Regions from separate parts of the Homo sapiens genome. Here region 2 is linked to region 1. The links come from fine-mapping of genetic effects on gene expression. A gene starts in region 1. The other region holds a variant in brackets. All regions are shown on one strand. Distances are from middle to middle. Region 1 holds the start of SPA17 (sperm autoantigenic protein 17). Region 2 has its middle 28 kb from the start of SPA17.

The links. PIP is the estimated chance that this variant, and not a neighbour inherited with it, causes the effect.
Region 2: its variant is the best candidate, but not a certain one, in a credible set for the expression of SPA17 in prefrontal cortex (BrainSeq, PIP 0.72).

The regions. Positions count from the first base shown.
Region 1 is chr11:124,671,336-124,675,729 of GRCh38, forward strand. SPA17 (sperm autoantigenic protein 17) reads left to right here and starts at 2,569. Exons shown (of 5, transcript NM_017425.4): 1 at 2,569-2,617; 2 at 3,903-4,083. The coding sequence starts at 3,930. It overlaps SIAE (sialic acid acetylesterase), which reads right to left and starts at 2,404. Exons shown (of 10, transcript NM_170601.5): 1 at 2,307-2,404. The coding sequence starts at 2,373. It overlaps LOC124902780 (a long non-coding RNA gene), which reads left to right and starts at 4,090. Exons shown (of 2, transcript XR_007062933.1): 1 at 4,090-4,227; 2 at 4,331-4,394. RefSeq lists silencers at 2,340-2,459, 2,432-2,590 and an enhancer at 2,500-2,679.
Region 2 is chr11:124,699,644-124,704,037 of GRCh38, forward strand. No RefSeq gene overlaps it. Among named protein-coding and RNA genes, the nearest start is that of SPA17, 28 kb to the left of the region's middle. The variant GTTT/G (reference allele first, on the strand shown) is at 1,981.

The DNA of each region.
Region 1 (4,394 bases):
TATTTTAAGCATTGGGGATATAACGATGAAAAAATAATAATAATAATAGCAGGCAAAAATCCTTGCCCACAGGGAGCTTCCATTCTACTAGAGACTTTACCTGTGGCAGGCACAGTGCTAAACACACCACAAACATTAATGTTCTTTGGTCTCAAATCACACAGTTTATGACAAGTTAGAAAACAAGTCACTTGATTCCAAAGTTGAAATTCCCACTTTGCCGAAATTAGATACTTGTGGCAAATCAAAGAAAAAATCATATTCCTCATCTTTGTAAAGTTTAAATTCTAAGTTCATTAGAGTAGACAGTGGAACATCAAGGAATTGTGCAATGGACAAAAAAAAAGAGAGAGAGAATGAGAAAGAGAGCAAGGCTGGTCATTCCTTGTGCCAAACACAAGACACATACATTTACCATTTGATTTCTTGTTTGTTTGTTTTTTTGAGACAGAGTCTTGCTCTGTCACCCAGGCTGGAGTGCAGTGGTGCGATCTCAGCTCACTGCAACCTCCGCCTCTGGGGTTCAAGCGGTTCTCCTGCCTCAGCCTCCCGAGTAGCTGAGATTACAGGCATGTGCCACCACACCTGGCTAATTCTTTTTTTTTTTTTTTTTGATATCTTTAGTAGAGACGGGGTTTCACTACGTTGGCCAGGCTGGTCTCGAACTCCTGACCTCATGATCTGCCCACCTTGGCCTCCCAAAGTGCTGGGATTACAAGCATGAGCCACCGCGCCTGGCCAATTTTTTTGTATTTTTAGTAGAGACGGGGTTTCGCCATGTTGGCCAGGCTGGTCTTGAACTCCTGACTCTAAGTGATCCGCCCACCTCAGCCTCCCAAAGTGCTGGGATTAAAGGTGTGAGCCAACATTTGGATTTTTTAGGTCTTCAGTTTTTTCCTTCATTTGGGGCTGGAGTAGAAAAACAGGAATTAGTGTTATGGGGAAGAGAGGGCAGTGGTTGCCTCTGGTGAGGAGCTCCGGATGCATTGGCGAGGAGCACAATGGCAGGCTCAATAGACTGGCAATGTTCTAGTTCTTAAGTTGGGTACTGCTCTCATGGGTGTTCATTTTATTGTGTCATTGTTACATATAATTTTGTACATCTCAAGCATTACATGGTAAACATGGGCACAGGGAGAATGACTTAAAGGAAAAACGTCAGGATACGCAACCAAGTAGAGTACTAATGAATGAAAAATGTGATCAATGTTAATGAAGGTGATGTAACAATAAGACCCAAAGGAGGAGATAAAATACTGACACTAAAATAAACAGCCTTTAACTGAAAACCTAATAAAATATCTTTTCCCCACCTCATAAGATGGATCTCAAAGGTCACTGAGTGGAGATAAGAGTCAGGAAATGGCATACAGAGTGCTAGCATTTTGCACTTTTGTTAGACTCTGAACAATCATTTATGGGCTGCAGTTTGTCTGAATCTAGGTACTTTTCCGGCTCTCAGGTAGAGCAGGAGTCATTTTTCTGCACGCTGTTCTCCTACCCCAACTATCATTTCTTAACAGGGATCTCTGGGGTCCACTCTTTGAGTGTTTTGAAACAGAAAGGAAGAAATCCAACATTATCACTTTAGTTTGCATTATCAGACAGATTGCACCTTCTGCTTTCTCCATACTGTGACCCAGTGTCCAGCCTAGGGTATTCGAATGGCAAGATCTGACCTGCGCAACAGCCAAAGGGAGCCACCAGCCTCCCCTATGCCACTCACATTTTCCCACCACCAATATCTGTAAGCGGTACCAGAAATCAAAACTGAGCCTTAAATAGTCAGAGCTAGTGAGGGGGTTGTATTTCTTAGCCCTGATAACCACTTAAACGAGTAAAATTTAATTCCCCTAAGGAACCCCGCCTGAAGCAAACCCTCCCCAAGGGCACCACTGAGGGGGTAGCGCTGAAATGTTTTGGAAGATTCAGTCACCTGTTTCCAAATATTACCTAACTAGCTTCGCCTCCTTCCCTCCGAGCTCCCCTGCAGTTACTCCAGGACCCCGAAGGCCTCTTTCTGGGCACATTTGGGCCTCCCCACTCAGACAAGCCGCACTTTCTCCCTGCTCACAGGCTGCATGTCAGGGATGGTAAGTGGGGGGTGGAGAAAGTGGAGAGGCCGGGGTTCAACCCAGCAGACTCCTGCAGACCGGGCCTCGGTCGGAGACGCGAGCCCCTAGCCTAGCTAGGTTCCTTCGTCGACCTTGAGAAAGGGGCGCGGATCCGTGTCCCGCAGAGGACACGGGGTCTCGGAGCCCGCACAGGCTGAGGGGCAGGGGTCCGGCCGAGCCGGGCCGCCTCACCTGCACTTCTGTCGGCCCACAGGATTAATGGCAGCACCAGCCCGAGTACAAGCCCCGGCGCGACCATGCTTGCAAGGATCTGACCGCCGCCTAGGACTGGGAAAGTGGGTTCCCGGCAGGGGCGGGGCCTGGGCGGGGGCGAGGCCGACTCCACCCTTTTGCAGTCCTCGCAGCCTCCCGCGACCTCAGGACTGGGCTGTACTCGCCCCTTCTCGGCCGCCGTAGTTTTTTTTTTTTTTTAAAGAAAAAACGGTTACCCAGCAACTAGAAAAACAACCGGAACCGGCGGCACCAGCTCGGAGAGAAAGGAGGTGAGGCCGCTTCCCCACTTCCTCTCCGATACCAAGACCTAGCCTTTTCCCTTCGTCTCTCTTATTCTCTCAGCATCCCAGACACAGCCTCGGAGCCCTGGGCCGTTTGGGAGCCGAGGCAGCCCATTCTGCGCGAGTCTGAAATCCCAGGTCCTCAACATCCCGCCCCCGACTAGACCCGTCTGCCCCCTCCGCCCGCCCTCCTCTGCCCACATTGGTTCAGAATCTCGCCAGCTCTTTTCACCACTCTAGAATGGTTCGATACCCCCATCTACTGCTCCCTCAGAAAAAGCAAAAGAGAGGAGTCAGGCGTGGTGGCGCGCGCCTGTAATCCCAATTGCTCGGGAGGCTGAGGCGGGATCATCGCTGGAGCCCAGGAGTTCGAGGCCAGAGACCCCCTCTCAAAGAAAAAAAAAGCGATGAAACGAGAACCCTCCATAGTCTGAGCCTCATTAAACCGTCCAGTTCTCCCAACCTGGACCCCTACCACGGCCTCCGCCTCTATTCCGCATTGACGCACACTCTCACATTAACAGGCCAGGTCCCGGAGGATTCTTTTCATACTCAGTAGTAGCTCAGCCCGCTGCTTAGCAGCTACCCTTAATCTAGCCCTTGTATTTCAAGACAGAAAGAGACAACCTGATCAAGAAGAAACCGAAAAATATAAGAATTCTAAAACTTTAGAGGCTGGGATTTCAAAATCATGACACACAGCCCCATCCCATCCCATCCCTCCCTCACACACACGCACGCACAACCCCATTCCACAGTACGAAGGTGTTCGAAGCATTGTGGGTCATGCTTCAGAAGTGGCAGCAAGGGGAAAGATTGTGCAACTTCTTCATTCAACAAATTAATTTCTAGAACCAGGACTAATTTCTACTCTTTAAAAAAAAATAGACCTCAAAGAAGGTCTTCTCAGCAATTGACAATGAATTTAACTTTTTAGCAATCATTCTCTCTAAATTCCTGTGTGATAGCAAAAATTACCCTTACCTTTTGAGCATATAAAGGGTAAAGAGAGAAAAAGTCATATTGAAAATTATGGGTTTTTTGCAGGATTTTAAATGATTTGGCCTAGTGAATGGGTCTGTGTTTGTATTATACTAATTCACAATGGAGATTTCAAAACTCTTTGGAAGAAATGGATGGGCTTGGGTTGTGTTAGGGAAAAAAGAATTCAAGTCCAGATGTATGAGTCTCAGAAATAATTTGTTGGCATAGTTGTGATTATATAAGTAAAATCAGACAAATTTAAAGACAGTACTCTTTAATGAATCTTTAGGTTCCATAGGCAGTTCTTACCAAGAAGATGTCGATTCCATTCTCCAACACCCACTACCGAATTCCACAAGGATTTGGGAATCTTCTTGAAGGGCTGACACGCGAGATTCTGAGAGAGCAACCGGACAATATACCAGCTTTTGCAGCAGCCTATTTTGAGAGCCTTCTAGAGAAAAGAGAGAGTAAGCTTTCTAAAATTAGTCATTTTTTAAAATAAGAAACTAAGCATTTGTTTATGGTAAAACTTGCTTAAGACCATCTCCATTCTGCAGAAAGCCTTTTATGAGGCAGGGAGTTTCAGATAACAGTTCTTGCTCTTTGAAACAGTATGTACCTCTTTGATATGTTCTCTTAAATTCGTTTCATATTATCGAAGATTACCAGTTCATTATTCAGACCGTCTTCATTGTATTTCTCACGGACATACAGCGTGGAAGGTAACTGCAAAAGAGCATACATTTCTCGGGAGAAATCAGTGGGGGAAAAAAAGATC
Region 2 (4,394 bases), 28 kb after region 1:
CTCAGTAAAATCTATGCTCCATGAAGATAGAGATTTGTTATTCTATTCACTGCCTAGCGCCTTTTTTATATGCAGTGGGAAGGAATGAATCACTTCTAGTGCCTCATACAGAAGTTGAAGGAGTCCTAGCAAATCTCCTTCCATCTAATTAGCTTTGATTGGGTAATACATCTATCCTTGAATCAATTATTGAGGTCAGGGAAAAGGAATATGCTAATAAATTTATGCATTTGACTGTCAGAACCTGTCCCTGGAGTAGGTCAGTTCTGCCCAAAAATATCTGGCTGAAAGTGAAGGAAATTTGAAGTCTCCTATAGGAAATAGAGGAATAGAGGAATGTTGTCAACTAACAAATATCCACCACAATGCTTTAATCACCACCTGGCTTCTCACTACACTGCATTTGTGAATTATTCATCAAAACCAAAGATGAGAGAAGTATCAAGAATAAAAGGAAGAAAAATGAAACAGCATATGAGGGGTTAACAAGACATGGGAATGTGGAAATTTGGGTAGCCTGCCACATAAATTGCAATGCTAATGGTGCTTCTTGGAGCTATGCAATGCAAAAAGGAGACTCTCCCAAAAGAAAGAGCTTTGGGTGCACCCTTTGATAGCTCAGCTGGTAGAACAGAGGACTATAGGCTGTATAGAAAGAGCTTTGGGTCTAAGAGAGTATGAAAAATCATGAGAGAGGGAGAGAGAGAGAGAGAACTTGAACTGTTTTAGAAATATATGCAAAATTTTCTCTGTGGGAAGCTAAGTGTGAGAGTTTGTCAACATGAATTTTTCATAAAACATTCTTATGAACACTGTACCTATGGAGAAGGAATCTTCCGTCGAGATCATCAAGCAGTTCTTTTTAATAGACACAAACCCAGCATAATTTGGAGGGAATTTTTCTCTGTTCCACTGTGATATGAAGCTCAGTCAAACAATGTCTCTGTGATTCCGAGATGAACCCAGAATAAGGTCTTGAATTATCACTGTCATTCTGCCTCTAAACTATTACATCATTCACTTTCTTTGTTCTAAAGCAAACTGAACAGTAATTTCCCCAATTCCTCAATAAAATTAGCCCAATAGTTTCTATACCTCAAAACAACTTGAGCTTTCCCTTTTTTATATAATTTCAAATTTTATTATAGATTAAGGGGTACATGTGCAGGTTTGTTACATGGGTATATTGTGTGACACTGAGGTTTGGGCTACAAATGATCCTGTCACCCAGGTAGTAAGCATAGTACCCAATAGTTAATTTTTCAGCTCACTCCCCCTTCTTTCCCTCCCGTCTAGTAGCCTCCAGTGTCTATTGTTCCCTATCTTTATGTCTGTGTGTATTCAGTGTTTAGCTCCCACTTATAAGTGAAACCATGCAATATTTGGTTTCCTGTTATGTTAATTTGCTTAGAAAAATGGCTTCCAGCTCCATTTTGCTACAAAGGACATTATTGCATTCTTTTTTGTGGCTATGTAGTATTCCATGGTATATATGTATCACATTTTCTTTATCTAATCCACTGTTGAAGGGCACCTAGCTTGATTCCTTATCTTTGCTTTGAATATATGAGTGCATGTCTTTTTGATAGAATGAATAATTTTCCTTTGGTATATACCCAGTAGTGGGATTGCTGGGTGAATGGTAGTTCTGTTTTAAGTTCTTTGAGAAATATCCAAATGCTTTCCACAGTGGATGAACTAGTTTGCATTCCCACCAAGAGTGTATAAGCATTTCCTTTTCTCCTCAGCCTCACCAGCCTCTGTTCTTTTTTGACTTGGTAATCATTGCCATTCTAACTGGTGTGAGATCTATCTCACTGTGGTTTTGATTTGCATTTTTCTGATGATTAGTGATGCTGAACATTTTTTTCATATGTTTATTGGCTACTTGTACATCATCTTTTGAAAAGTGTCTGTTCATGTCCTTTGCCCATTTTTAATTGGATTATTTGCTTGTCGATTTGTTTTTTGTTTGTTTGG[GTTT/G]TTTTTTTTTTTTTTTTTGAGACAGGGTCTTGCTCTGTTACCCATGTTGGAGTACAGTGGCACTATCACGGCTCACTGCAGCCATCCTCCCACCTCAGCCTCCCAAGTAGCTGGGACCACAGGCTTATGCCACTACATCTGGCTAATTTTTTTATTTTTATTTTTGTAGAGACAGAATCTTCCTGTGTTGCCTAGGTTGGTCTCAAACTTCTGGGCTCAAGTGATTTCCCACCTCAGCCTCCCAAAGTGGTGGGATTACAGGCATGAGCCACTGCACCTGGCCTCGTCTCTGATTTCTTTCAGCAGTGTTTTGTAGTTCTTCTTGTCGAGATCTCTGACCTCCTTGGTTAGATGAATTCCTAGGTATTCCACTTGAGCTATCTAACATTTGGAAATATTTCAGCAGACACCATATTATCTTCAAACTTGGATTTTCCCCTGTAAAATTATTCCAATGTTCTTGTTTTATTGGGGCAGCCCGGGGGTGGAGGAAATACAAAAACTAGGTACTAATTTCCTACCTGTAGGTTTCTTGGCTTGAGGATATTTCTAGAGTGCATTATAAACAGGACTAGGACTCTACTTTTATTCCTATTTTCCCTTTCCTGCTATCTGTAATGAACATATAATCCATTTTGTATCAATTCATGATGTTGACAAACTCATTTCCAATCTGAAGTGCTTTTTACAAATATAGCTACTTGGAGGCCGGGCATGGTGGCTCACGCCTGTAATCCCAGCACTTTGGGAGGCCAAGGCAGGTGGATCACAACGTCAAGAGGTCGAGCACATCCTGGCCAACATGGTGAAACCCCATCTCTACTAAAAATACAAAAATTGGCTGGGCATGGTGGCATGCACCTGCAGTCCCAGCTACTCGGGAGGCTGAGGCAGGAGAATGGCCTGAACCCAGGAGGCGGAGCTTGCAGTGAGCCGAGATTGTGCCACTGCACTCCAGCCTGGGTGACAGAGCGAGACCCTGTCTCAGAAAAAAAATAAAAAATAAATAAATAAAACAAATATAGCTACTCGGATTGACAATTATTTATGCCTGTGATTGTCTCAGAAGAGTCTGTACATGCAGAATACAATACTTCAGAATGTGAAATTATTTTCATGAATGAAATAGGCTTCAAAGTAAGCAGCCTCTGTTGTGTAGATCCAAAAAATTAAAGCCTGCTGGGGAGTGATGTTATTATAACCAAAATTTCAGGAGCCACCATACACTTTGACAAAGGACTATCAACACTGCAAGACCATCAGATTACCACAGAAAGTGTATGAACTACAACCCTAAGAGGGTCAGATACAATGGGGAAGGTATGAGAATCTGCCACTATTCTACCCCTGAAGACACACTCCTATCTCAGAAGGCTTCTGACCAAAAAGTATAGCATCTTATACAAAAATTAACTAAGATGGATTAAAGACTTAAATGTAAAACCCTAAACCATAAAAACTCTAGAAGAAAACCTAGGCAATATCATTCAGGACATAGGCTTGGGCAAAGACTTCATGACAAAAAGTATAGCATCTTACACCACTGAAACTATATTACTAAGAAGTACGGTCCAGTTTAATAAACCAAGTACTAAACCCAATTTTGGAAGCTATCAGAAAAACTTGTTTATTAAGTCCTTGAAATTATAGAAAATATGCTTACCTGGACCCTTAACAAGCAGTTGGTAGGAAAGAATGATTACTGCAGTGCTGTTGTCCCAGTAATGAGTTTAGAGACACTGGCCTTTGGATTGCTTGAGTAATATAGTCAATGCTGTAATGTGCTACCCAGATATGCCCCCTTCTCCCCACTCTTTCAGGACTTAAAGCTGCCTCTATTCTAAGAATTGCCCTCAGCATTAAATTTGTGCCCTCCCTGGGGGCAGCCCCCATCTAATGCCTAGTCAGTGCTCTGGTACCAGGGCTGATCCCTTACCTCAAATTTAGACAGTTTTGCAGAGCCGTCCCAGCTCTCACCCAAAGGATTGGCTAAACTTTTATTGTAACCTTATCGCAGTTCAACCTCATCTATCCAGTCCTGCTTCTCTGTCATCCTTACAGGTGTTTTTCCCGAATGTACTCTCTAGTAAACCACCTATGCTCAAATTCTGTCTCCAAAACTATGCCCAAAAAACCTGACCTATGACCGATTAAGTTGCAAATTTCTGGCATACTTGCACATTTTTAAACCCTTTGCTTCCTCTAATGTGACCTGTATAAAAATTCAATGATAAGCGTATTTGCTTGTCAGGGGATAATCTATAACAGAAAAAAATACACATTTCTTCTCTAAATGAATTACAATTACCAAAGCCCCAACCAGTAATGCTATGGACTCAGTTGTGTTCCTTTCAAAATTCATATGTTGAAGTCCTATAACCCCTAATATGATGGTATTTGGAGACAGACTT